Linked DNA regions of Homo sapiens. The protein of the gene in region 4 interacts with the protein of the main gene of each other region in a pairwise test. Each region holds a gene or a part of one and is shown on either strand. Other genes may lie near its edges.

Region 1 (7,224 bases), on a different chromosome or scaffold from region 4:
AAATAACAAAATACCATTTCTAACCCATGAGACTGACCAAAACTTAAAAGTCTGATACTGTCAAGTGTTAGTAAGCACTATTGTGGGCTACTGACAGACCTGTGAACTCGTAAAGTCATTGTGGGGAACAACTGATCATTATCCAGTAAAACTGAAACTTGCAATCCCTTGCACCCTGCAATGCCATTACTGGAGCACAGAGGCATGGAGACGGATGGTCACTACAGCATTGTTTGAAATAGAAAAAACTAGAAACAATTTAAGTGTCCAACAAAAAGGGAATAAGTAAAATGGGGTATATGCCTACTGTGTAGCAGTGAGACTGCAACAGGCCCATACACATATCTACAAATAGGATACTTTACACTTTCAGAGAAGGAACACACTACAGGAGTACCCTACAGTGGCAGGATTGAACCAGCATTACACACATAACAAGGACAACTTCCCCAAAGGTAAAGTTATATGAAGAGGCAAGCTACAGGTGACACTGACAGTATGACACCACTATGGAAACTCTAAAAAGCCCACACAAACAATATCATATGTCATTCAAGTATATCTATATAAGCCATAGAGGTATAAAAATGGTGCAGTGGCACAAAACAGACTCATGATTCACAGTAGTGTTTGCCTCTAGAGAGAGAAGAGGAGGAATAGGACTGAGACTGGGGAACAAACTTTATCTAGAGTGTCGCTTTTTCTTTTTTAAGAGATGAAGTCTCAGTTTATTGGCCGTGCTGGAATGCAGTGGCTATTCACAGGCACAATCATAATACACCACATCCTCAAACTCCCGGCCCCAAGTGATTCTCCTGCTTCAGCCTCCTGAGTAGCTGAACTACAGACACACCCGACAGTATTTTTTACATATACATATATATATACACACACACACACACATATATGTATATACACACACATATATATAGCTTAATGTACACTGTTTAATGTACTTGATGTTTACAATATCATTCTGGAAATGTCCTAATATTTGTTAAATTTCTCAAAAGAAAAATAAGATGTCCACGGAATTAAAACATTTTATGAATAATTAAAGAAATTAACGAAAGATTCTGACTATAAATAAAATTCCTATATATAAAAAGCCAAATGAAAGCTCATTGGAATGAAAGAGAAAAAAAGAAAACATTAAAATTGACATAACAGATACGGAAATGCTTGATTTTTAAAAACAGTATCTATTATTCAGTTGGTGACTTTTACATAATCAACAGTCTTTACAATTTGAGGGGTATTTTTTACTGCTAACTTGAACGAAACTACATGAGTACCCCAGGCAGAAACAGTATGAATACATAAATCTTTTCTAATGTGTCCAACTTGCCTTCAATATATTGCTGGTATTATGCCTGAAATTTTATTGAACAGCTCAGAAAATATGCTTGCTTTGCCAGTTCACGTACCAAAAATGGAACCCTAAATGATGCTGATGTTTTGGGGCTAAGTATTTCCTTAGAATTGTTATGGTGCCCAATGCAGGATGTCACCTTACAGGCACTGCGTTTCCTCTGCCTCACAATCTTCACATTTAAGCATTCTACTGCCGGTGGCCACCTTCCAAGGCACAAGCCAAGCTCCATCACATCTGTGAGCTGACGCTTAGCTCTCTGTAATGCTCACATTCATTAAACACAGATTTTTAGGAAGTGGAACGGAAATTACCTGCGATTCACTTCTGGGACAGTCACCTGATGTTGCCATAGTTCTCTTAGGCTCTGCCTCATAACTGCTGATTTATTTCATTTTCTTTTCCATTTCTACTTTTAAAAAGAGAAGGAGACACAAAGTACTTGTTACATTGCTTAATAATTGAGTTCACTTAACTTCTAATGTGCATGATGTCCTCTACCAAATAGAAGTAAAATGTGTATGTGTGAAGATTAGTGTAGAAATGAAAATTTACAATACTTTACAGAGACAAAAGCATTTAAAAATCATAAACTTCAAATAGTGTGTTTTCTTCACTAGTCTGCAAGGTGTTAATCTTGTTCATTTGCTGAAGCCTGTTAGTTTCTGTTAGATCAGGTGTCGACTTAAGGCAATAAATCAGTATTCATTAATTTCTTAGAAGTGTGATAGCTTTAATTCCAATTAAAAGTCCCTACCTGGGACCTTACAGTGTTTCCACTAACAGGAACCAAGGTCTGCATCTTCCAGTCTTTTCCTTCTTCTCAATTCGTATTTTTCCAGTGATAGTGTAATCCACACACTGCTCTGGGATCAATGTGTTTTTAAAATTGCATAGCAATTCTTTGTTTAAAATGCATGCTTCACTTCTAAATCCAGACTTGAAGCTTATTTTTGTGATATTCGTAGTTACAAATGCTTACTGATTTGCATAATTATATTTTCATTGGAAGACCTGGGTCCAAACTGGGACGGGGTCGGAGTGGAGGCCGCAGTGCGCGCAGGACCCTGCCCTCCTAAGATGCCCTCGGGAGGAACAGGATCATGGAGGGTTGGAACAGGTGGCCAGTGAAGGGGGGTGAGAAGGGGGCAGGAAGCGAGAGGGCCACGCGTGGACGCAGGGGCACGAGAGGGTCAGGCTGGGACAGCGCCGCGAGCTTCGGGGCAGGGGCCGCCAGGCAGGTGGGCGTGGCCGCGAAGGGCGTGACAGAGATGGTGGTGGGGTGGGCGTGGCCGTAGAAGGCGCTGGACGGCGGGAGTGGCCGGGAAGGGGTGCGGCACGCAGGGAAGGGTGTGACGGGGACCGAGCTCCCGTTTGGACGCCAGGGAAAGTGGCTGAGATCGCGAAGGCGCTCGGAGGTCCCAAAAGGGGGCGGAGGCCTCTGTCCGCCAGCGACGCACACGCAGTGCGAGGACGCCTCACCTGGCCTGTCCTTCCTTACGTGCAGTCCAGCCATCTGAGCTGCCCATCAGGACACCTACCTCAATCGCGTTTCTCCGCTGAGTTCCGCGTCCACACCGCCAGCGCGGAGGGGTGGACGGTCCTTTCCAGGAGCCTGAGCCACCGCCCTCAACCCGCGCAAGCGCAGTGCACGCAGGCCGTCAGCCGGGAAGGCCCCGCCCAGGGCCCGGCGCCCCGCGCAGGCGCAGTCCTAAGACGTCCCCCATTCCAGGGAAGCCAAGCCACCGCCCTCGACTTGCGCCGGCGCGTCGCTCACAGATCGTCTGCAGCTGGGGCTGCGCCCCGCGCAGGCGCACTTCACATCTGCGCGTCCCGCGGTCTTGCGAGGCGAGGCCAGGTTCTCCATGTGTGGAGCTCGTCCCCAATCGCCCAGCCCAGCCGCGGGGTTGGGGGGCTCGGCTTGGGGTCCGACCCAGAGGGGCGCGGGGCAGGAGTCCGACCTGGGGCGGGGGGCGGGTTTGGGCCATTCACGGCTTGGGAAGCGACAACCCCTACGAGCCACAAAATGGCTGGGGCTTGGGGGACCCCCCACCTCCTCTGTCTTCCCGCAAATAATTCAGTTAACTTTCCCATCCGCGCTGCGCAGTGTGCGCCCTCTGCCTTTCTTCTGGATAAGTGGAAGCAGAATGATGACGTTTCTGTTGTGGGGAGAGGAAGTTTGGGGTTAAGGAGAAATGGGTGGCGCTAATGCCTGTAAAACATAAAATTCGAAGCCCCCCCTCCCCCGCAGCCGTCTGACTGGACTCCCTCCTTTACCAGGGGACCCTGAAGTTCAACCTGAGAGACTATTCTGGCCTCGAAGGGAAGTAAGAGTTGGACATGCCTTTTTACACTCCTCCAGCATTAACATCAAGGCAGACCTTAAGTCTGATTTAAAAAAAAAAATGTGGAAGGAAAATAAATTTGGGGGCCGCAAAATCATTAAGCTTAAAAGGAAAAGTCAAGTTGGGAACTGCTTAGGGCAAACCTGCCTCCCATTCTGTTCAAAGTCATCTCTCAGCTCACTGAGATAAATGCGTATCTGATTGCCACCTCTGGAGAGGCTAACCAGAAACTCAAGGGAATGCAATGATTTGTCTCATATTTACCTATGACCTGGAAGCTCCCTCCTGCCTTTGCTTTGAGTTGTCCCGCCCTTCCGGACCAAACCAATGTTCATCTTACATATATTGATTGATGTCTCATGTCTCCCTAAAACGTATAAAACCAAACTGTGCTCTGACCACCTTGGGCACATGTCATCAGGGCCTCCGACGGCCGTGTCATGGGCGTGCATCCTTAAATTCAGCAAAATAAACTTCCTAAGTTGACTGAGATCTGACTCAGATATTCAAGGTTCACATTTTGGTAACCACAAAGGGATTCTGAGTAGAGGTGCCACTGACCTTTGACAAATCTGTCAGTCCTTAGTACCAGCTTGAGCTATCTTTATGGCTCAAACCAATAGGACAATTTGCTGAGGCCTGGAAGCACCCCCTCCAGAGAATCCCTGATCTACCCAGATTTAGTCAAGATCTAGTTTATTTTGCTGTACAACTCCTTTTGTGTGTTGGGCGGGGGTTGGGGGGCGGGGTGTGCTTTACTCTCTTCCAACATAAGGAAGTAGTAGTTTTTTCCTGCTTCCATGACAATGGAAGGCAGGTAACTCGTTTATGGAGTTTGAGCTCGCTTCCCACAGGAAAGATGAGGGGTTTTCTTCCTCTGCTTCTAGGGTGGTAGAGAGCAATCTTCAGCCTCAGACCCATCCCTAGGAAGTAACTGAATTGGGGTTTGTCTTGGCTATTAAGATTAACAACCAGCTGGTCTTAATTTCTCCTTACCATTAGTGTGCTCAGTAACCTTATAAATTGCCCAATCCTTCGTTTCGCTTAACTGGTTTTTTTGTTGTTGTTTCTGTTTTTTGTTCTTTTGTCTTTTTCGCATTGAGTTTGACGAACTCTATCTGACTTGATCGAAACCAAAGGAAAGTTCCAAATTATGAGAAGTGAGGCCTCTGAAGTGGCTAAGTTTCAACCCCTCCCCACCACACACACACACACAAAAGGTGATGTGGTGGGGGGAGAAAAACAGCTAGCAAAAGGAAAAAGAAAAAAAAAATTTATTTTGACTACTTAAAGGGCTTTTCTTACATAACAAGGCCACATTTTTGCTAGCCAGACCAACCAAAAAGAGTAATGTCTGTCACCCCACACTGCAGTTCCATACCTAAGGGTTCTGCCTTCTTTTTTTCCACCACCACAGCCTGGGTTTAGTTCCTAAATTAAGCCCTTTCTGGTTTGATACTTGGTACTTCTGAAATAGCAGCAATTAGTCCTAGCTGAAATATGATAATGAGATTTATTTATTTATTTAGACAGAGTCTGGCTCTGTGTTCCAGGCTGGGGTGCAGTGGCACAATCTCAGCTCACTGCAACCTCCACCTCCCAGGTTCAAGTGATTCCCATGCCTTAGCCTCCTGAGTAGCTGGCATTATAGGCCTGCACCACCACACCCAGCTCATTTTTGTATTTTTTTGGTAGAGATGGGGTTTCACCATGTTGGCCAGGCTGGTCTCAAACTGGCCTCAAGTGATCCGCCTACCTCGGCCTCCCAAAGTGTTGGGATTACAGGCATGAGCCACCATGCCCAGCCAGTAATGAGATTGAAAAAGTTTATTTTTAAGGAGCTCAATGGTTAAAAGCTTAATTAAAAGCTAACATCCAACATATGTGTGTTGTGTGCCTGTGTGTGTGTGTTTGTATTTAAAAGGCTTCCAGTTTTGTTTTTTTTGTTTTTTTCTCTCCTAGGACCTTGTCTTTTTGAGCAAAAGTTTTTTTCTTCTTAGTTGACTGGCTTCTGTTTTCTTCATTTACTTTTGTCGTGTCTTCTTTCTCTTGCACCCTCTGCTTCATGGGAAACCTAATATAGTTTGTAATACCCAGGGTTCCTTACAGAAAACGGAGAAGGTGCCAGATTCCCCTTGGAGGAGAAACCTCTGTTTCCTTATGGAACCCCAAATGTGTAAACAGACAAGTTCATCTCAGCTTTTTTTTTTTTTCATCTCAGCTCTTAAACTGCTTGCTTTTGTATTGTGTTACCTAATTTTTTTACTAAAATAGTTACTGCAACAGAGGCTACTCTGGAGTTCTTAAGGAATAGTATAGTTTAGACATGTAGAAATGTCTTTGTTGAAAAAAGTTTTTTAAGTGCACTGTAAAAGCATGATGTAGTCTAACCTCATAATAATTTTCGCTTTTTGGAGACCCAGGATTCAGTGTAGGGTCTGCCCAGAGCTCAGAGATCCAGTTAAAATATAGGGAGTCTCTGTCTAAATAAAACTGGTCTCCTTATACAATCCTATGATAGATTTTCATAATTTTATGTTTGATTTCACATCCATTTTTAATCTCTCTTTAGCACCACCAGACTTTTTCCTCTCTGTACCTTAAAATGTAAATTTTGCTATCTAATTTTTCATCTAATAGTTTCCTTTAATATGCAGATTTAGGGCTATTTAGCCGGCAACTGCCAGGGCAATGACACAGATGATCAAGAGTTTGCAAGTCTAAGATAGAAAAAAAAAAAGAGGTCTTAGGAATCTATAAGATGTACTTCTATCGGTATACCTAATACATCTATGTATTTATGTGTTGCGTACACAATGTTTCTCTATTAAAAAATATAGAAGAGCTATAATTAATTGGCTTAAAGAAAAATAAAAGTGCTCAAATAAATTATTTATTTATTAATTAAAGAAAAATAAAAGTGCTCAAATAAAATACTTTATTAGAAAAAGGGAAAGACTAGTCAAATGTTAAGTTTACTTAAAATCTTTAATAAATAAGTTAGCTTTAAAAATAGTGGCAAAGTAATTTAGAAATGTCTTAAGAATTGCCAGCATACATTTTTGTTTGCATTTATTTATCAAGCAATTTCCTACTTATCCCTGCCAATTACTATAAGGTGTCAACATTTGGCATAGGGGTTACAAAACTATAAACCCAGCCCCAAATGGAAGAACATAAATGGCCTGATGGAGCTGAAAAACACAGCACGAGAACTTCATGAAGCATACACAAATATCAATAGCCAAATCAATCAGGTAAAAGAAAGGATATCAGAGACTGAAGATCAACTTAATGAAATAAAGTGTGAAGATAAGATTAGAGAAAAAATAATGAAGAGAAATGAACCCTTCTCAAAAGAAGACATTAATGCGGCCAATAAACGTGAAAAAAAACTCTTCATCACTGGTCATTACAGAAATGCAAATCAAAACCACAATGAGATATCATCTCACACCAGTTAGAAAGGTGATCATTAGAAAGTCAGGAAACAACAGATGCTGGAGA
Region 2 (6,847 bases), on a different chromosome or scaffold from region 4:
GGAAATTTGCAGATTGCAATCCCTCCTAGGTTTTTCTTCAAGGTGGAAAAACTTCAACTCAAATTTTACAATTCATTTTTTCATTTTTTCTTTCCATCACAGACACTAGGAAGGGATTGTAAAGTGGTTATGAAATCCAAACGCCCACCAAAAACGGGAATCCCCTGCCCCTCCCCCTCCCCCCACACCACGCAAAGGCCCACAGCGTCCCCGACAGTCTGAACATTCCAATAGCGGGAACTCAGTATTTGCTAAGGCAGCCATTACTGGAGAGCGCTCTGGTTGTTAGAAAGCTCTTCCTTACAGTATTGCAAGAGGAACCACCGCCCCTCCTTGCCTGGCAGCTTTCCCACCTCACCTCTGTTGGCTGAGGCCAGGTGACGGTGGAGGGGGTGTCAGTGGCTAGAGCTTTAGCAGACTCAGCAGCCCCCCACCCCCACCCAGGCCCTCAGCGTCTTCCACTCAGAGAGCCAAGCGCGGGGCAGGGCGGGGGGTGGGGCGGGGGCGGGGTGTTAACCCACCGGTTCTGCCCCGCCACAAATCACTTCCAAGTCGGTGACTCAAAAATAGTAACAGTTGTTGGGTTGCATCTCATTTCCATGTTATCAATTTAATGTGGCAAGGCACAGAGGTAGTCCCTTTAGGTCCCTGCCTCTTTCTCAGTGTTCCCCCACCTACTCCCCTTTCCCACGACCCTCAGCCTGCCCCCTCCTCTAGATTCGCAGCCCTAGTTGTCCCAGGAGAGACTGTGGGTCTCCGTGGGAGCTGAGCAGGAAGAAAGGCGGGGCCGGCGGGGGCAGCCGCGGCGGGGTTGAGGCCCTGAGGGGCAGCTCCCACCCCGTAGCAGCCTCCGCAGGTCCTGGCGGAAGCGCAGGCCCAGGAAGGCGTAGAGAACGGGATTGAGGCCACAGCGGGCGAGGGCCAAGCCGCTGGTCACCAGCAGTGCGACATCCTTGCGTTTGCTGGCAGGGCAGCTCCGCTCGCGCGCAGCCAGTAGATCGGCAGTATCCAGCAGCAGGGCGAGGCTGTAGGGCAGCTGCAGCACCACGAAGGCCGCCACCAGAGCCACCACGACGCGCAGCGCACGCCGGCGCTCGGGCCCCCTGGCGGCCAGCAGCGTGCGGCCCAGAAGCGCGTAGCAGGCTACCATGACGCCCAGCGGCAGCGCGAAGCCCAGGGCCACCTGCGCCACGGCGCTCGCCCCCTTCACCGTCTGCGTGAGGCCCTCGGGGAAGATGAGGCGACAGCGTCGTTGGCCTTCCCGCTGCCCATCCTGGCTGAAGAGCAGCGCAGGCAGCGCCAGGAGCAGTGACAGCAGCCACACGATGACGGAGACCAAGTGTGCGCGGCCGGGAGTGGAGGGCCGCGGCCCGGCTGGGAGCGCTCGCGCGATGGCCACGTAGCGGTCGGCGCTGATACAGGCCAGGAAGAGGAAGCCGGCGTGGAAGGAGGCCGAGTAGAGGCCAGAGATGGTGCGGCAGGTGGCACTTCCCAGACTCCAGCCCTGAAGAGCCCCTGCTGCCGCGAAGGGCAGAGTCAGGGCCAGCAAGAGGTCGGCCAGGGCCAGCTGGAGCAGGTGGGCAGAGGTGGGCGAGCGCGCTGCGCGTCGGGCTGCCAGGTGGGTGGCCAGGACCAGGCCATTGCCGGCCAGACCCAGCGCAGCCACGGTCAGGGAGACACTGGGTTGGAAGGCCCGGCTGAAGGCCTGGACATCGGCCTTGTAGCAAAGCTCCGGCAGTGGCTCAGCCGAGTATGCGTCCTCTTCATCCCCAGAGTAATGGCCCCAGGAAACCTGGGAGGGTCAAATGAGAGGCGGGATCTTATGAGACACATCTGACCACACAACTCCCCCGCCCACACTTGCCTTCCAAGCTGAGAGCTCCTGTGTGGCCAGATGTAACAGTACACGGGGAGACATAAGCTCTTCTCCAGACTCTTCCTAGCACACCTTCAGCAGGCCTTGGCTTCCCTTGCACCCCTCCTACCTCTGCTTCCAGCTTCCTGGGTGACCTTGAGCAAGCCACTTGCTCTTTCTAGACCTCAGTTACCTAACCTGTAATGTTGAGATTATAAATCCTGACCAGCCCACCTCTCAAGGTTTGCTGTGAAGATGGCAATATGGAAAATAATGGATGGGGAGAACCTGTGTTCTCCAAAGGCCATAATACAAAGTTTGTATTATTATTATTATTTATTATTATTATTATTGGAGACAGAGTCTTGCTCTGTCGCCCAGGCTGGAGTGCAGTGGCACGATCTCGGCTCACTGCAACCTCCGCCTCCGGGTTCAAGAGATTCTCCTGCCTCAGCCTCCCAAGTAGCTGGGACTACAGGCGCCCACCACCACGCCCAGCTAATTTTTGTATTTTTAGTAGAGATGGGGTTTCACCATGTTGGCCAGGATGGTCTCGAACTCCTGACCTCAGGTGATCCGCCCACCTTGGCCTCCCAAAGTACTGGGATTACAGGCCTGAGCTACCACGCCCAGCCCAAAGTTTGTATTATTAATAAATCCTACAGCTTCAGTTCCCTTTGCAGCGCCCTCTCCTGGAAGGATGCCCATATGCAGGCTTTGCCTCAGACCTGAGCCCTGGACTCCAACCTCCGTCTGGAGTGGGTTTCTGTTTCTCTTCTTTCCCTTCCATACCCACCTTCCCTGTACCTCCAATACCAGCACACTGAACCACTCATGCCAAGGGGGTCTCCAGGGTTGGGACTCAGGTTTTCAGGGCCCAGGTGGGACCCTGGACCTCTAGGTTCAACCCGCCTTTCCCCTCAGCCCTAGTCCCTGTCCCACAACCCCAGCCTCACACCACCAGCCCATTTATCTGGAGGACCCCTAGTCTGAGACAGCGCCAAGAATCCTGAATAAGCCATAGGATGGCAGAGGCCCATTGCCAGGTGGGGAATCCCATTCCTTCCCTGTCTCCTCCCTCTCTGTAACCCTTCTCCCCCTCCCTGCCCCCACTCCCACCTGCTCTGTGGCCTCCGTCCCCATCTCTGGCTACACAGGTTTCTGAGGTATAGCCACAGGGGGTAGAAGTTAAACTACTAGCGGGACAGGAAGGAAGAGGCGGGGAGAGGGGCCGAGAGGGAGGTGGGGATTAGGGTCTACGGGGTCACTTTCCCATTCCACCTCCTCCAAAAGACTTCACTCTCTTGTGCAGGATCTGGATTTTACGAAAAAAAAAAAAAGAAGAAGAAAGGAAGGAAAGAGGAAAGAAAGAAAGAAAGAAAGAAAAAAAGGAAGGAAAGAAAGAAAAAAGAATGAACGAAAGAAAGAAAAAATAATTTACTGTCTTTGTCAGTGAAGAAAGAACGGGCTTCGGAATATAATCATTTGCTGTGTGATATTGACTAAGTTTCTTGACCTCTCTGAGCCTGAGGTTTTTCATCTGCAAAGTGGAGTAGGGCAAAAATGCTAAATTCACAGTGCCCAGCACCACTCCTAGAGCATAATTTGCCTTCCGAAAATGTTAAGATTCTTTTACTTACCCTTCATTCCATTTCCAGGCACCCCTCCCCCAAACCACCTCCCTTTTCTTGAAATTTTCAGGATGCTTCTGGCCCTAGGTTCCCTGTCCTCACTCCTGTGGCCCTAGTCCCGGGCAGCCTCGGGTTACTTGGGGTTTTCCCGGTGGCGAGAGGCTCTCTACCCCCGCCCTTTCGCAGCAGGGCTGAGGCACGCGCTTGCGCGGGGTCCGGGAAACCGGCGCGTGCCAGGAGACAGAGGCTGGGGAAGGGGGGAGGTGAGAGGAAAGAGGGTGGAAAGGAGAGGATAGAGAGAGAAGAGCGGAGGACCAGGAACCAGAGAGAGAGAGAGAGAAAAGAGAGAGGAGAGACAGAGCGCTTGGGGGCGAAAGGAGAGAGGGAGGGAAGGGTGGGTAAGGAGGAGAGAGCGGTCTGCTGCAAACCCCAGGAGGAGAGCTTGGAGCCCAAGCCAGAACTCGAGCCCTAGCCGGAGCCGTTCACAGGGAGGCGGCTGCCGGGACCGTCAGCCCTGCATGATGCATCTCCGGCTCTTCTGCATCCTGCTCGCCGCGGTCTCAGGAGCCGAGGGCTGGGGCTACTGTGAGTGTTGGGCTTGGAGGCAGGTGGGGTTGGGCCCAGGAGTCCAGAGCCTGCAGGGCGGCCCCGAACCGCATTGCGGCTGGGTGGTCGCGGGTCCTTCCCGGCCGGCGCGCGCCCGCTGGCTCTCATCTTTTCCTGCCTCTCCCCCGCGCTCCGCATTGCAGCTCTGAGGCTGCCGCGCGCGCCCGGGGCTGGGGCTGGGCTCTGGGAAGAGGATGAAGTCAGCGGGCAGGGATTTGGGGTTGGGATCCAAGCAGGAGCTGGTGCCTGGGTTTGAGGCTAGGGCTGGGGGATAAGTGTATACTGGTGACCGATACTAGGATTAAGGTTTTGCCAGGGCTTAAGGCTGGACTTTGGAGCTGGCCAAGGGGTGGGGTTTGTGGCTAGGGCTGGGGTTTGTGGCTGGGGCTGGGTTTTGTGGCAGGGATCCAAGCAGGAGCTGGTGCCCCTGACTGATGCTAAGGCTGGACATGGAGCTGGTGATGGTGCTAGCACTGGCTGAGGTTGGGTGCAAGGCCTGTATTTGGGGATGGTGCAGGTTTTGGGGGCCGAGTTGGATTGAGGCTAGGGTTGGAGCTGGATTGGTGTCTTGGGTTGACTTAGGTTGTGGAAGATGCTGAGGTTTAGGATTGAGTTTGGGAAAGTACTAAACCAGGGCAGGTATTGGGCTAGCTAGGGAGGGTCTGGCCTTGGGCCTATAGGTGTAGCCTAGGGGTTTGCCTAGAAGGAGAAGGTAGCCTCCTCTGAGCATGCAGCTGTTGCTGCAGCCAGGATTGAATAGATGGCTTTAAGGTAGGGCTGGGTGTGCCTCTGGGGGCGGGGGTTGGGGGCACGGAAGGGGAAGCTTCGGTCGCTAAGTGGGCCGGCCTTTGGAAGGGTCTGGGAGGGGCCAGCGCTGACTAACAGTCGGTTTCCCTACCCTAGACGGCTGCGACGAGGAGCTGGTGGGTCCCCTGTATGCACGCTCCCTGGGCGCCTCCTCCTACTACAGTCTCCTTACTGCGCCGAGATTCGCCAGGCTGCACGGTGAGCTCCGCGGAACATCAGCTGCCAACTGGCAGCGCACCGCGGAAGGGTGGGGGCCTCCGGAGGACTTCGGGGAGAGGGATAGCCGGTTAAAGCTCCTGTCCTTTCTATAGGCATAAGCGGGTGGTCACCACGGATTGGGGATCCGAATCCCTGGCTCCAGATAGACTTAATGAAGAAGCACCGGATCCGGGCCGTGGCCACACAGGGCTCCTTTAATTCTTGGGACTGGGTCACACGTTACATGCTACTCTACGGCGACCGAGTGGACAGCTGGACACCGTTCTACCAGCGAGGGCACAACTCGGTACTCTGGGCGCCAAGGCGGTAACACTTGGGGAGCTTCCTCTGCTCCAGGCTCTGGGCCGGGCACCAGCCTCTGGGAAAATGGAGGGGGTGGTGGTGAGGGCTCGGACAAGGAGCAGTGACTCCACTCCAGGGACTCTGTCCAGAGGGACTGTCAGCTTAGGACGTGCGCGAAACACTCGGTTCACAGGGTTTAACACACTTTAGGGTAAAACCTGGGAGAGCTTCCTAAGGAGGTGACATTTGATTTCAGGTCTGAGGAAATAATAGGATTGTGGGACAGGGCACTTTATGGAAACTGTGCGGGCAAAGCCGCCAAGCAGGGAAGACCAAGGAGTGTTTACTTTCCAGAAGTCGAGATTGGCTGGGTGTGAAAGTTGTGGGCTGGGAGGCTATGGAGAAAGAAGCAGAGGGGGGCCGGGCGCAGTGGCTCACGCCTGTAATCCCAGCACTTTGGGAGGCCGAGGCAGGTGGATCACGAGGTCAGGAGTTCATGACCAGCCTGGCCAACATGGTGAAACCCCGTCTCTATGAAAAATACAAAAAAATCAGCCGGGCGTAGTGGCGGGCGCCTGTAATCCCAGCTACTTGGGAGGCTGAGGAAGAGAATTGTTTGAACCCGGGAGGCAGAGGTTGCGGTGAGCCGAGATCGTACCACCGCACTCCAGCCTGGGCGACAGAGCGAGACTCTGTCTCAAAAAATAAAATAAAAAAAAGAAGCAGAGGGCAGGACGTGGTTACTACTCTCCTCCACCCCCGCAGACCTTCTTTGGTAACGTGAACGAGTCGGCGGTGGTGCGCCATGACCTGCACTTCCACTTCACTGCGCGCTACATCCGCATCGTGCCCCTGGCCTGGAACCCACGCGGCAAGATCGGCCTGAGGCTCGGCCTCTATGGCTGCCCATACAGTAAGTGTGCAGAGAGCGCGGAGGGGGCCTGGGAGACAGCCTCCCCAGTTCCCGGCCCACCTACGGTCCTTTGCGCAGAGGCCGACATACTCTATTTCGACGGCGACGATGCCATCTCCTACCGCTTCCCGCGAGGGGTCAGCCGAAGCCTGTGGGACGTGTTCGCCTTCAGCTTCAAGACCGAGGAGAAGGACGGTCTTCTGCTGCACGCCGAGGGCGCCCAGGGCGACTACGTGACGCTCGAGCTGGAGGGGGCACACCTGCTGCTGCACATGAGCCTGGGTGAGCTCGGCGACCATGTGCGATGCGGAGCCAACCCCTGAAGCTCTCTCACCGCCCTCCTCGTGGCACCTCCTCCGCGCATCCGCGCTCAGCCTGGTCTTCCACTTCTCTAAGGCCTGGACCAAACTGCCCCTTTCTTGTAGCATTTGGTGCTAGCAAAACACTGGAGTTGAGTGAGAACTGGATTCCAGTCTCAGCTCTACCACTACACAGAGATGTGACCTCGGATGGGGCACTTCCGAGCCTCAGTTC
Region 3 (7,022 bases), on a different chromosome or scaffold from region 4:
ACAGGGACTCATTATGTTGCCCAGGCTGGTCTTGAACTCCTGGCCTCAAGCAATCCTCCTGCCTTGGCCACCCAAAGTGCTGGGATTATAAGTGTCAGCCATCACACCCAGCCCCTAAGGGGCATATTTCTACCTGTTTAGTTACAGATAACCCTAATAACAATATTTTAAAGCACTAAAAATGCTATGACTGACTACTTTCCCCCTCAGCCATGCAGAGGGGCTTGGCCTCTCCAGAGTTCTAGAAATCTCCCACAGATTAAAAAAGTAGTAAAGGTTAATAAGAGAGGTCTTATGGTTAATGTTTCCTCTACCTGGCCGTGCTGGTATACAGGCTACTTGGAGCCTGGCTTGAAGAGGCGCTCGTGGTGGGGGTGGACTCATAATCAGAAAGGACAGGCTCTGACCCAAACTGCAATGCCCCAAACTGCAGGTTTAGCCCTGAGATATCTGCTGAGCCAGGCATCTCCACAGCCAGAGCAGGAATCTATAAAGTTGAAGGAGAAGAGAAAGTAATGGCTTTAATACAACCTTACTAAAGACTAAAAAAAACCCTTCCCTTTAAATTTCCAAACTTACCCTTTTAATCTCAATTCTCAAGCCCCACACCCCTTGCCATAAAATGGTATCTACCTAAAAGTTTAAGTACCTTAGAAGTCAAGGAGGCTTTTTTCTTCTGCTGTTTCAGTTTCTGCTGAGCCGGCTGAGGGCTAGAGGACTGGTTGTCTGAAGATCCAGGCGACATCTGTGGAGCCGATGTGGATTTGCTTGGCAGAGGAGAAGACGGAGGTGGAGGTGCAGCTGTGGAGGTAGCCACTGCAGGTGACTTCTCCTGAAGGAACACCTCCATCATGGTTGAAGATGGGGTAAAAGCCTGGCGCTTTGTAAAGGGGCTGTGCACTGCTGAATCACTTGGGTTCTTCAAATCTGCAAGAGGAAACCCAGTATATGAAGCCAGAGATGCTAATGAATCTCAAGGAAATGCTATTGTCCTGCACTAGCACCATGAATGAGGACTGTAAAAATCAGAAACTCATATAAGCAGGCCCTCTTTTGGGGCTTAATCTCATTTCTATAGGTGACAATCACTGGATTACATCTTTTTTTTTTTTTTTTTTTTGAGATGGGAGTCTTGCTCTGTCACCCAGGCTGGAATGCAATGGTGCAATCTCAGCCCACTTCAACATCCGACTCCTGGGTTAAAGCAATTCTCTTGCCTCAGAGTAGCTGGGACTACAGGCGCGCGCCACCATGCCTGGCTAATTTTTGTGTTTTTAGTAGACACGGGGTTTTGTCATGTTGGCCAGGCTGGTCTCGAACTCCTGACCTCAAGTGATCCGTCCGCCTCGGCTTCTCGAAGTGCTAGGATTACAGGCATGAGCTGCCGCACCTGGCCTACAACCATCCTTAAATAAAGCCTAACTAAATCAACATTACCCTGTCTGTGTAAGACAGGAATGCACAAATTGTCCAAGTTTAAAGTACCGCAAGTTCTCATTTAACATCCATAGGTGCTTGGAAACTGGCTTTAAGCAAAAACAAGGCATGGCATATCTTGGCATAACGTTGTTTCCTTCAACATGATTTCATTATAATGTTGATGAGGAAAAAAAAATGGCCAGGTGCAATGGCTCACGCCTGCAATCCCATCACTTTGGGAGGCCAAGACCAGCAGATCGCCTGAGCCCAAGAGACACACCTGGGCAACACGGTGAAAACCCATCTCTACAAAAAATTAAAAATTAGCCAGGCATGGTGGTACAAGCCTGTGGTCCCAGCTACTCAGGAGGCTCAGGTGGGAGGACTGCTTGAGCCCAGGAAGATGAGTGAGCCAAGATAGTGCCACTGTACTCCGGTCTGGATGACAGAACTAGACCTTGTCTTATGTTTCGCATAAAGTCGCAAGAACCTATCAATGACATTAAGTGAAGACTTACTGTATAAGGTCTTAAGATGGCTAAGCCTAAGAACCTGGAGGCAATATGTTATTTTCAAACACTGAAGATAAATCTAAGGAGAATAATAATAATAATTAAAACCCCAATCAACAGAAGACTGCAACTATGTATATGGTTAAAAATTTTTCTTTTTTTTTTTTTTTTTGCGGAAAGCTAGCTTCACACTAGCTCACCCTCACTAGGGGCTGGGACCACAGGTGCACACCACCGCACTCAGCTAATTGAAAACAATTTTTTTAGAAATGGAGTCTTGATATGTTGCTCAGGCTGTTCTTGAACTCCTAAGGCTCAGGCTGTCCTCCCACTTCAACCTCCCAAAGTGCTAGGATTACAGGTGTAAGCTACCATGCCCAGCCTCTAAATGTGATGAGAAATACATAGCCTCAAATTTTATTATTCCCCAACTTCTTGAATTCAGCTTATTTGATTAGGGGAAATACATGTGGGAAGGTAACCAACTAGCTGCCCCTTTTCTTCACTTCAGGACACATTCTCCACCCCCTCCCCCTGCTAGCCTCTTGACAGTAATGCTCCAATGCTTTAAAGATTCAAGTCACTTTCCATCTTCTCACCATACTGCACCAGTGATGGGGATTGTGTCGTCGAGCCCATGTCCCAAGAGGAGGTGGTGGTGCTTCCAGACTGAGAATGCTGAGCTGCCAACTGAGCCAGGGCTTGGGCAGTCTTGAATTGCTCCAAGAACTGGGAGCCTGTAGTACTGCCGCCTTTAGCTTCACCGACATCACCAAATCCTTTCCCTAACATGCTCACCTGTAGATCAACAAAGAGATGAGAGAAACCTACAGCCAGTAACCTTGTTCAGCTACTCATAAAGACACTTATCCAGACCGAGAGCCAGTATAGATCAGGCAAGTAAAGAATACTGTCACACTGAGTATACAGCATAGTCCACTAGAGTATAGGACCTAGAGTCAGACTGTCTTAGATTGAAATCCTGGCTATGTAAGCTTGGAAAAACTATTTTTTAATCTCTCTTTCCTCATCTGGAAATAGGAATAAAAGTAAAGCTGTAGGAGGATTAAATAAATTAAAGCACTTAATACATGTATGGCACATAGTAATCACTAAAAAAACAGAGCCATTAAAACTTCATATCATCATTACTTCCTTCTCCCTGCTTCTCAGGGATAAAATTTGGCTGACTGGAGAATTTTTGTTTTTGTTTTTGTTTTTGAGACAGAGTCTCGCTCTGTCACCCAGGCTGGAGTGCAGTGGTGCTATCTCGGCTCACTGCAAGCTCCGCCTCCCAGGTTCACACCATTCTCCTGCCTCAGCCTCCCGAGTAGCTGGGACTACAGGCACCCGCCACCACACCCGGCTAATTTTTTGTATTTTTAGTAGAGACAGCGTTTCACTGTGTTAGCCAGGATGGTCTCGATCTCCTGACCTCGTGATCCACCCGCCTCGGCCTCCCAAAGTGCTGGGATTAGAGGCGTGAGCCATCACACCCAGCCGAGAATTTTTAAATCAACCAATACAATTAACATAAATGTAATATAAGATTTTACTTTTGCCATTAAGGTCCTTGCCCTTCTCATTAAAAAAACTCAAAAGAAACAACAATTAACTGGAGCCTCATCTCGATGCTGCTAATAACTAGCACAGAGGCAAAAAGGAAAAGTTAAAGGGCATCCCAACTTCTGCACTAGACAATCAAGTAGCAAGTCAGTATGATTTGATTGTTTTCTCCATGTACATACAAGTTCTATAGGGTAATCACTGGGCCGAATGCGGTGGCTCACGCCTGTAATCCCAGCACTTTGGGAGGCTGAGGCGGGCAGCTCACCTTAGGTCAGGAGTCCTAAACCAGCCTGACCAACATGGTGAAACCCTGTCTCTGCTAAAAATACAAAATTAGCCAAGCGTGGTGGCGGGCGCCTGTAACCCCAGCTACTCAGGAGGCTGAGGCAGGAGAATTGCTTGAACCCAGGAGGTGGAGGTTGCGGTGAGCCAAGATCGCGCCATTGCACTCCAGCCTAGGCAACAAGAGTGAAACTCTGTCTCAAAAAAAAATAAAAAATAAATAAAAAATAAAAACAATTAAAATTACCTAGTGTTCACTGTATTATACATAAAAATATAAAGAAACTCCCATGTTATTTAGCTCTATTAAATTTTAAGTGAAATTAATCCTCTAACATTTATTCTCAATAGAAAGGAAATTACATTATCTAACATATTGATTAGTACAGGCAACAAAAAAACAGAATAGTATTTATACTTAGTTTTCACATTTTTATTTAAAAAAAATTTTTTTTTAGAGAAAGGGTTTCATTCTGTCACCCAGGCTGGAGTACAGTGGTGAGCTCAAAGCTCACTATAGTCTTGAACTCCTAGTCTCAAGCAATCCTCCCACTTCAGCCTCCAGAGTAGCTGAGACTACAGGAACGTGTCACTGTCCCCAGCTGAAAACATCTTTTTGATATCAAAAGTCTGATTTCGTTGTAAATTTTCACAATTCCAGACATTAAGAGGGCAATTAAGAGACATAGATCACATAATCACATTTTCCAGTCATTTATCTTTAAGGGTTGGTAGTTACTTCTTGATCTTCATTACACCTTCTTACAACCTTTGTCCTATTTTCTTTCTTCTTTTTCTATTTAATCCCAACACTTCTCTCCATTTCCCTTCTCCTCCCACCTCTTCTCACCTGTTACCTTTCCTATGTGGCAGGACATCGACCACCAAATTACTAACTTAACACACACAAAAAACATTTTAAGACAACAATTAAAAACTGACCGAGTTCTGAATTAGTAGCTAGCTTGGCAGTTTTCTAGTTAAACTAATTACTCTAACTGGAAAAATAAAATTATATGCACACACATGGTCTGCTTACAACTTTAGTATCCCTCCATCAAAAAATAGGAGAGAAAAAGAGAAAAAAAGAAAAAGCAGTACTTCTCAGGACTCAATGACTATGAGAAAACTGGTACTTGTAGCATCTTTGTTTAGTTTAAATGATTCCTTTGATGTCGTTAATGACCTTGGATGTTTTAAATGCTCTGAGTCAACAAGTAATATGTCATAAGTTCTAAGTTATTTATAATATCACTACTGAAACCACACTTGTATAGCCACCTTTGGGAAGATGGGAAGGACTAGCACTTTTATCCCTATTTACATAGAAATGGAGACACAGCTAGTAAGTGGCAGAAATGGGAAGACCATAGGTTTCTGGAGGCCTTGTCTACAAATACCTGGTTTAAGTAAATATACAAGACAATTCTGATCCATCAAGAAATGGGGAACTGCTACAATCTCCCATCATAGTTTAATGAGGGCTGCAAAAGGATTAAAATGTATTGACAAGTTTATGTCATTGATTTTCTCTCAAGAGTAATGGCAAATGGTGTTCATTCAGCACAATGAGTAGTCAATAAATAATGTTAACTTATTCTTATAAGAATATTCAGTCTGTCCAGAACTAAGTCCTCTCTTAGAGCTACCCCCTATTACCCAACTCAAACATTTCTACAACCAAGTCTGCTTAAGAAGACAAAGAGGATGCTTCACCTGCCAAAAACCTGACTGTCTTTGGAAGGAACTGTGTATGTGTGCTAGGATTAGCAGGAAGGTTTGATTAGGATAAACCACGTTTCCTACTCACCATACTGTGATGAGAAAATGTGTTCCCTGAAGCAGGCTGTGATATGGCAGTCTGCTTCGAATTACTGAACACCAGAGGCTGGGCCAGAGAAGGAGCCTGAGACGGATCCAGATTAGATGAATCATTCTCCATTGTAGATGGTGTCTTCCCCAGCAGAACAGCAAGGTCAATTCTAATGGGGAAGGGAAGGGATCTTCATGAAGAATGACTGAACACGCTAACATTCCCCAACACTCAAATCAGATTAGATCAAAATGAAGCCACTTGCTGGGGCTTCTTCTAAAAGGGTTCAAACACAAAAGCCTTGAAATGCTTAAATGTCCCAAAATAACTGATGCATAAGAGTCACTACAGTATATAGCTGAATTCCACTGATGTTGCCAATAATAATGGTTAATTTTTTAAGTGAAGTTATTAATTTAATGAAATATCAAATGCTAGTTTTTGTTTGTTTGTTTGTTTCGAGAAAGTCTCGCTCTGTCACCCAGGCTGGAGTGCAGTGGTGCAATCTTGGCTCACTGCTAGCTCTGCCTCCTGGGTTCACGCCATTCTCCTGCCTCAGCCTGTAGCTGGGACTACAGGTGCCTGCCACCACGCCCGGCTAATTTTTTTTTTTTGTATTTTTAATAGAGAAGGGGTTTCACGTGTTAGCCAGGATGGTCTCAATCTCCTGACCTCATGATCCGCCCGCCTTGGCCTCCCAAAGTGCTGGGATTACAGGCGTTAGCCACCGCACCGCACCCGGCCTCAAATGCTAGTTTTAACATGGCAGCTCAATAACTCAGCCAAAACTTACAAGTACTTATCCATGATTTTAATACTGAATACCTGTCATTACCAATTCCTAAAACAGAAAATCATATACCAGAACACTGGAATCTTCAAATGGCTTTAGAACAGGGGCAGTCTGAGAGATATTTTTTCCCACAATTTTCGTAAAATTTCAAAAGTTACCTGTGGTATAATATATACTTGAGCTTTGCCTTGTTCCTGGCATGGAGCTCCTAAAACATTTAGAATTTCCTAAGTGATAGTGTCCTTTGTTACTCATAACACACTTCTTTCAACCATACCTGAATGCTAATGAGGTAGCCCAGGGTGGGGCCCCAGATAGTTTCAGGATGAGGGTTGGTCACTAGAAAGACCAGATAAGGCTGGATGCAGTGGCTCACACCTGTAACTCGGCACTTTGGGAGGCCAAAGCAGGCGGATACTTGAAGTCAGGAGTTTGAGACCAGCCTGGCCAACATGGTAAAACCCTACTAAAAATACAAAACTTAGCCTGGCGTGGTGGCGGGTGCCTACTATACCAGCTACTCGGGAGGCTGAGGCAGGAGAATCGCTTGAACCTGGGAGGCGGAGGTTGCAGTGAGCCAAGATTGTGCCACTGCCCTCCAGCCTGGGCAACAGAGTGAGACTCTGTCTCAAAA
Region 4 (7,606 bases):
AGAACAAGACGGAGAGAGGGTCGAAAATGCCTCATGTGGGAGATCTGATGGCCTCCTATCCTGGGACACATTTATACATGTTGAATATTTTATTACCTACTTCCTCCAAACTTCTCTTAGAAGGGATTCCTTCCCCTGCCCTTAATAATCTCTGAAATCGCGCTGATTGTGGTGGCTCACACTTTGCAATCCCAGCACTTTGGCAGGCCGAGGCAGGCGGATCACCTGAGGTCAGGAGTTCAAGACCAGCTTGACCAAAATGGAGAAACCCTGTCTCTACTAAAAACACAAAATTAGCCGGGTGTGGTGGCGCATGCCTGTAATCCCAGCTACTCAGGAGGCTGAGGCAGGATAATCGCTTAAACCCAGGAGGTGGAGGTTGTGGTAAGTCAAGATCACACCATTGCACTCCAGCCTGGGCAACAGGAGCTAAACTTGGTCTCAAAAAAAAAAAAAAAAAAAAAAAAATCTATGAAATCCCTATCAAGAAGGCTGAGATATGTAACATTCAATACTTTTATGTGAGATTGGTTGATCATGAGCCTGCAAGAAGCAAGCTGGCCTCAAAGTTTCCCAAATCCACATTTATTTTCCTCCAATTCTTACGTGTCCAAAGACAGGGAACCACAGACACGCCTTTGTAGGAGGATAACTGGTGTTCACCCAGAGCCCACACCCCCTTTAAAGGACCCAGTGTAAAGTTGGGAAATCTCCTCTAGTCTTTTGGTATTTCTACTACAGCCACTTCCCTTTAAAGAGCTCTAAAACGTATGCCCCATGCATGCCTAGCTTTCAACCATCAGAAGCATCTTTGCAGGACTCTCACCAGCGGGTTTCTGGATCTCTAAGGACTTGCCCTTATACGTATCAAACAGGTTGAGCGAGGAATACTTCTTTCCATCCTTTCCCTTGGCAGTCGGCCCCGAGCGATCGGACATTGCGCTGGAAGCTCATTGAGTATGTTGGGTCCTGCAGGCACCTCCCCCAAAACGTGCCAGAGCCTGTGGGCCAGACAGCAAGTGTCTCAGTCTCTGTCCCCTGTACAGACCATAACAGAAACTTAAAAACTCCATTGCATTATCATTAGGGACTCAGATATGAGGCCCTCTGGTGTCTTTTCCTCCAGTCTATGTAAACTGCCCACTCTTCTCAAGCAACCATGATCTACTTAGCTCCCTCATAGCTCAAATGCCATGTTCCCTCCTTTCCCCCAGACACCTTTGTCAAGGAAATCTAAGTAAAAATCCAGCATCCTCCTAGTATAAACACTCTGCCCTTTGTGCCTGTCTACAAAGAGTAATTCCCTACAAGTAATAATCTCTTCTCTCTCCACCAAAATCGTTTCAGAGACTTACAACAGGACAAATTCAAGCAAGAGAAAACTAAAAAAGAAGCATACAATTCCATCAGAGAAGAAGAAACAACACTTTAGATTCCCTGTTTATTGGACACAAGCTCCCTAATCATGCCCCCAGGGCCCTGTACCCCAGGCTCCCAGCCCAGCAGCCTCGTGTCCATCTGGGAAGGTTTGCAGGAAGGTATGCTGGGAGTTTAAGGATTTTATGAGCTTGCTCAGCCGGAATGGGGGTTGGTACCAGAGAAATCCTCATAGAACAACTAGGGCTGTACATACTCCCAGGCTATAGGAACCTCAAGTATTTGAAATATCCCATCTTTTCCTAAACTTGCTCCTGTATTGGCTCCTGGAAAAAATCGCCTCCAGATGAAATACTGTTTTACCATATGAAGAACTGAGAAAAAGCATTATGGAGCCACCTTAGCACCCTGTAACCATGGGCCAGAAAACAGAGGGCCAAGGCCAGAGCCATCTTCGTTTTCCTATCCTCATTAAAAATGTCCATCACCAGTGTTTCTTTACTCGATACCTCCAGCTCCCTAAGCAAGCCGGACGACAGGTCTCTCAGTCCATTCCAGAGTGACCAGGCATTCGTTTATGGACGGGAACAGTGTAAAGAGATGAGAAATAGTGGGGAAGAAAGCAGGGAAATCCAGACAGGCCCAGAATGAAAGCTAAAATTGGGGAGAAAGAACTTTATGACAAGCTAGAGATAAGATGGATGTTGCTTCGTAGGTGTTTGAGGAGGCCAATCTGTGAAGATAAATATATGAAGGGAAAACGAATACAAGAGTCATGTAGCGAATAGACCAAAACTAACAGAAAATAATGAATACGAAAGCAGGTGGAAAATATATGGAAACAGGAATGGCAAAAAAAAAAAGGATGTAGACAACGAAGTAAGGGGGCAGAGGCCCAAGAAGAAAAACGGGGTTGGGGGAGAAAGGAGACGAGGAACAGGAAAAATGAAAAAGCAGACATAGGGCGACTGAGCAACATAGAAAGCAAAGATGCTGGGATAAAAGCAGGATTCTAGAGTGGGAGTGGCTCGACACGAAGAGGGGCGTCCAGAGGGGGGAACACAGCGCTGGATGATAGGAGGGGGTCCAATATGGAGGAAAAGCGCCCTTCCGAGAGAACCGTCGGGCGCGGCCCACCACCACGGGGCGGCAGCCGGGGAGGGGGCCCACAAATGGGGGTGAAAAGCCAGGAGCGCAGCGGAGGGTAGGGAGTTACGGACCCAGGCGCAGGGGTCACCCCCTGAAGCCAAGACGGTGGGTGGTTAGGGGCAGACTACGGATCCTGAATGAACTGCCGGAGGTGCGGGTCCCGGAGTAGAGGTACCGGAGGGGGAGGGGCAAGCAGGCCCGGCAGCAGGAGGACAAAATGGCGGCGGCTAATGGCAGCTTCTCCTCCCCCCGGCCCACCACCGCCGCCGCCGCCGCCACCGCCACCGCCACCACCTCTCCCGCGCCGGAAAAGGGCGTCAGCGCACGGTTCACCCAGACTCACCTGGCCGGGTGCGCGGGGATCCGGGACCCGGGCCTAGGGGCTCCCCGGGACGGGATGGCGGTGGGGCGGGGGAGGATGGCGGCGGATGGCGCCGGGTTCGGCTCCTCCCGTCTCCCTCGCTCACTCCGCGGCTGAGCCCCGACTAACGGCCCATCCGGGCAACCGCCGCCCCCGGGAGCACCCCCTCCCACCTCCCACCTCCCTCCGCGCCTAGACACGCCCCTTAATTTGCATAAAGGGCGGGGCACTTTCTACCCTAACCCTCTACTTCCAGGGCTGTCTTTAGTTTAAAAAAAAAAAAAAAAGGGCCGGGCGCGCGGAGCATGCGGAGGTTATTTGCATAAAGAGGAGGGACTTAAGGGCACTAGGACCCCGATTGGCTAAGGAGGCGGGCCCCCAGCGTCGGCCGTTGAGCCGTGTTGAGGGGGCGGGAATGCGGTGCAGGTCGGCTGGGCGGTTGGGACGCAGAATTTACACGACGAATGTGGGAGAAAGAGGCGGAGCGTGCGTCGGACGTTAGTAGAAAGATGGGAGCGGAGAGACGTTGGGACGCCAAAAGTGGAAGGCAACGACACACGGCCCGTGGCGCCTTCAGCTAGGGAGAAAGAGAGAGAGGACGGGGGCTGGCGGGCGGGATTAGCTGCCGGAGGGCTGAGTTTCCGCAGGCCTGGTAAGAGTTCCAGCTCTCGCATCCCTTTGCCGTGAGTTTGAGGAGGTGGTTGGAGCGGGGAAATGCACCAGAGGGGCGGGGCCTTCCAGTTATTATATTACGTCATGCAAATGAGGTGGCTAGACAGACCAATCCAAAGGCCCCGGGAAGCGTTTCGTCCGCACCACGCAGCGTAGGCATTCTTCGGGCAGTTCTACCTATTTGCATAATGTATGCAAATCATTTGAACAAAGATAGGCTAGGAATGACTCGTTCATCAAAATATGGGCAACCATCGACTAAGACGGACATTTAATTTTATAACCTATAATTTTCATGAATAAATTTTTATATTTGAAATTATTGGGAATTTGTAATTTCTTAACAATGGGTTTCATTTTGTGAAATGCAGTACTGTTACCCTCCTTTGTCTCTTACTACCCGATTCTAGAACTCTCTGCTCCCATCAGAGTTATACCCATTCAACAGATCATTCAATGACTATGATTTGAAGGCGCTGGAGATAATGCACAGGATATTATAGAAGTAGAGAAATAAGGCCTGGCGCGGTGGCTCACGCCTGTAATCCCAGCACTTTGGGAGGCCTAGGCAGGTGGATCACGAGATCAGGAGTTCAAGACCAGCCTGGCCAACATGATGAAACCCCATTTCTACTAAAAATACAAAAATTTGCCCTACGTGGTGGCGGGCGCCTGTAATCCCAACTACTCGGGAAGCTGAGGCAGAGAATTCCTTGAACCAGGGAGGCGGAGGTTGCACTCCAGCCTGGGTGACAGAGCAAGACTACGTCTCAAAAAAAAAAAAAAAAAAAAAAAAAAAAGAAGGATGGGCGCGGTGGCTCACGCCTGTAATCCCAGCACTTTGGGAGGCTCAGGCGGGCGGATCACCTGAGGTCACGAGTTCGAGACCAGCCTGACCAACATGGAGAAACCCCGTCTCTACTAAAAATACAATTACCCAGGCGTGGTGGCGCATGCCTATGATCCCAGCTACTCGGGAGGCTGAGTCGGGAGAATCGCTTGAACCTGGGAGGCGGAGGTTGTGGTGAGCCAAGATCGTGCCATTGCACTCCAGCCTGGGCAACAAGAGCGAAACTCTATCTCAAAAAAAAAAAAAAAAGAAAGAAGTAGAGAAATAAAATATGATTATGCCTGGGGTGATTGAGAAATGTTTCTAGAAAAACTCTTATTAAGAGATATGAGGCCGGGCGTGGTGGCTTATGCCTGTAGTCCTGGCACTTTGGGAGGCTGAGGCGGGCAGATCACAAGGTCAAGAAATGGAGACCATCCTGGCCAACATGGCAAAACCCCGTCTCTACTAAAAATACAAAAATTAGCTGGACTGGTGGCGCGTGCCTGTAGTCTCAGCTACTTGGGAGGCTGAGGCAGGAGAATCGCTTGAACCTGGGAGACGGAGGTTGCAGTGAGCTGAGATCACGCCACTGCACTCCAGCCTAGCGACAGAGTGAGACTACGTCTCAAAAAAAAAAAAAAAAGAAAAAGAAGAAAAAAAGGGCCGGGAGCGGGAGCAGTGGCTCACGCCTGTAATCCCAGCACTTTGAGAGGCCAAGGTGGGTGGGTCACCTGAGGTCAGGAGTTGGAGACCAGCCTGGCCAACATGAGACTCCATCTCAGGAAAAAAAAAAAAAAATGATATGAAGAATGATCGGAGTAGATATCTGTCAAAAATATATAAATAAATAGATATGAAGAACGAGTTAGAACTTACCCAAGTTTCAGAAGAAGGTGTACATCTCAGGTGCAGAGAACAGATTAGTGGAGGCATGAGTTTGGGGGCCTGTGCCTAGGCTGATATGGCTAAATAAAGGAGGCGGCTTATTCATTATGAAAAGTGAAGGCAGAAAAGTTTGCGGAAATCAGATGAGAATTTTAGTCAGAGGCTCAGTAAGATTTAAGATGACTTCTGTTTTCAAACTTCCAAAATGATTCTCTTCTCCCTTCTCCCCGGCCGGCTACCACACATACCGTTTTGTTACCCTTTGCAGCAAAATTCTTAAAAGGGATGTCCATAGTCATTGTCTCCAATGAGTTTCTCCTTCCAGTCTTTTTTTTTTTTTTTTTTTTTTTTTGAGACAGAGTCTCACTCTTGTCACCCAGGCTGGAGTGCCATGGCGTGATCTCGGCTCACCGCAACCTCCACCTCCCGGGTTCAAGCGATTCTCCTGCCTCAGTCTCCCGAGTAGCTGGGATTACAGGCACCTGCCACCATGCCCAGCTAATTTTTTGTATTTTAGTAGAGATGGGGTTTCACCATGTTGGCCAGGCTGGTCTCCAACTCCTGATTTCAGGTAATCTGCCCGCTTCGGCCTCCTGAAGTGCTGGGATTACAGGCGTGAGCCACCACGCCCAGCTGTAAATTCTTTGCTTTATTTAATAGCACCAGTTCTTTCATTCATCTACCCATTCAAGTGTTTTTTGTTTGTTTGTATGTTCGGTTTTTTTTTTTTGAGACGGAGTTCGCTTTTTAGTTGCCCAGGCTGGAGTGCAATGATGCGATCTCGGATCACCACAACCTCCACCTCCTGGGTTCAAGAGATTCTCCTGCCTCAGCTTCCCAAGTAGCTGGGATTACAGGCATGCGCCACCACACCAGGCTAATTTTGTATTTTTAGTAGAGACGGGGTTTCTTCATGTTCGTCAGGCTGGTCTCGAACTCCTGACCTCAGGTGATCTGCCCACCCCATCCTCCCAAAGTGCTGGGATTACAGGCATAAGCCATCGGCCCCGGCTCATTCAAGTTTTAAACATTATTGAGGGCTTATGATATGTCAGGCACAATAGCATAGGTCACTTTATCCCCATTTTTAGAAAAAAGCCTCACAGAGGCTGAGTGATTTGTCAAAGTGACAAAGCTTATAGTGGTGGAGAATGTTGGTTCATGGTATTCCTTGCTCTTCATGAAATCTGTCATGGGCCTGAGTACCTTGTTTGGACATGTGTTTTTGACCTGCCTGCATTCTTTGAGGTTAAGGCTGTCTTACACAGCTGGAATCCCCCTTGGTGCGTGAAACCATCTGCTGTAGTGGACACACTATAGCGTTGTTGATGGATTGTTCATATGGCCAAATCCTTGCCACCTTTCCCTCAAGACCTGTCTCTCCTTCCCAAACCCAGGAAAAAAATCACCCAAATAAAAACTAAGCTGACTTGATCTGGAGGAGGGGGTAATTTATTTAATTTGTTGACTCTGGCTTACAATTTTGTCTTCTGTTTCCATATCTGGGTCATTAGAAGCCCCTTCAATCCCATCATCCCTTTTCCCTTCAAATCAGGGCAACTCAGAGATAGCTTTCTTGGCTGGGGGGCCTGTTGGCTTTTCCTTTTCTCTCGCTTTTTCCTCATACATCAGGATCCTGGTTGAGATGGGAAGAGGCACAGGGATCAGGGAACACTCCTCTCAAGGGAATAAATCATAGGGTGCTAGGAAAGGCTAGAAGGGGATGGGGATGTGAGGGTGGAAGGGGGAAGAGGAAGGGCAGGGGTTGGAGTTTCTGGGGACCAGGACTATGGATAGGGATGGGGTCGGGACCTTGGAAGGGTCCCTCTAAGGATGGAAGAAGGGATGATGGGCAACGTGTAGAAATGTTGAGCCTGTGGACAAGGGTAGGGATGGGGGAGGAGAAAACAGGTAAGTACAGGGGAGGTTGGAAATTGACACTCACATTTTTAGGATGGCAGATCTCTTGCCCAGCATCATCCTGAGAAAGTCAGGGTAGCTGAACGTCTCCCCGGAGCCACTGGACACCTCTCCAATTAATTTCTTTAGCTCTAGGTGAGTCTTGGGGACTCCAAGTTTCTCCAGCATTCGTTTCAGGGACATGATATCTGGGGGCAGAGGATGGGGATGGGGAGAAGGTGGGGAGACCCTCTCTCTCCTCTCCCACTTCCGCATCCCCATTCTCCTTCCTCCCACTGTGGTAGGTGGGCCCCCTCCCAAATCATGAGGAATGGAGCATGTAGGAGAGACCTCTGTCTTCTTAGGCCTGCACACCACCCTGCCCCCGCAAATCACCCGTTTCTCACCAATATCGCCATTTCCATTAAGGT

What was found.
Region 1: the proteins of PRRC2A (region 4) and PRMT2 interact in a two-hybrid assay, tested with the Homo sapiens proteins (one study listed by BioGRID and IntAct).
Region 2: the proteins of PRRC2A (region 4) and CCR10 interact in a two-hybrid assay, tested with the Homo sapiens proteins (one study listed by BioGRID and IntAct).
Region 3: the proteins of PRRC2A (region 4) and UBAP2L interact in a two-hybrid assay, tested with the Homo sapiens proteins (one study listed by BioGRID and IntAct).

Annotation. Positions count from the first base shown.
Region 1 is NC_000021.9:46,631,453-46,638,676, reverse strand, and holds the start of PRMT2 (protein arginine N-methyltransferase 2), read right to left. Parts: upstream 3,004-7,224; 5' UTR 2,914-3,003; intron 2,239-2,913; 5' UTR 2,130-2,238; intron 1,782-2,129; 5' UTR 1,726-1,781; coding exon 1,687-1,725; intron 1-1,686. UniProt on the Homo sapiens protein: Arginine methyltransferase that methylates the guanidino nitrogens of arginyl residues in proteins such as STAT3, FBL, histone H4. Acts as a coactivator (with NCOA2) of the androgen receptor (AR)-mediated transactivation.
Region 2 is NC_000017.11:42,678,826-42,685,672, forward strand, and holds CCR10 (C-C chemokine receptor type 10), read right to left. Parts: upstream 3,019-6,847; 5' UTR 2,999-3,018; coding exon 2,975-2,998; intron 1,793-2,974; coding exon 728-1,792; 3' UTR 64-727; downstream 1-63. Other genes in the region: CNTNAP1 (contactin-associated protein 1 precursor), read left to right, coding at 4,005-4,071, 4,996-5,097, 5,211-5,404, 6,166-6,313, 6,392-6,595. UniProt on the Homo sapiens protein: Receptor for chemokines SCYA27 and SCYA28. Subsequently transduces a signal by increasing the intracellular calcium ions level and stimulates chemotaxis in a pre-B cell line.
Region 3 is NC_000001.11:154,244,946-154,251,967, reverse strand, and holds part of UBAP2L (ubiquitin-associated protein 2-like), read right to left. Parts: intron 5,765-7,022; coding exon 5,593-5,764; intron 2,730-5,592; coding exon 2,531-2,729; intron 928-2,530; coding exon 650-927; intron 488-649; coding exon 315-487; intron 1-314. UniProt on the Homo sapiens protein: Recruits the ubiquitination machinery to RNA polymerase II for polyubiquitination, removal and degradation, when the transcription-coupled nucleotide excision repair (TC-NER) machinery fails to resolve DNA damage.
Region 4 is NC_000006.12:31,616,122-31,623,727, reverse strand, and holds the start of PRRC2A (protein PRRC2A), read right to left. Parts: upstream 3,014-7,606; 5' UTR 2,870-3,013; intron 1,039-2,869; 5' UTR 939-1,038; coding exon 827-938; intron 650-826; exon of another isoform or gene 518-649; intron 1-517. Other genes in the region: AIF1 (allograft inflammatory factor 1), read right to left, coding at 7,218-7,606. UniProt on the Homo sapiens protein: May play a role in the regulation of pre-mRNA splicing.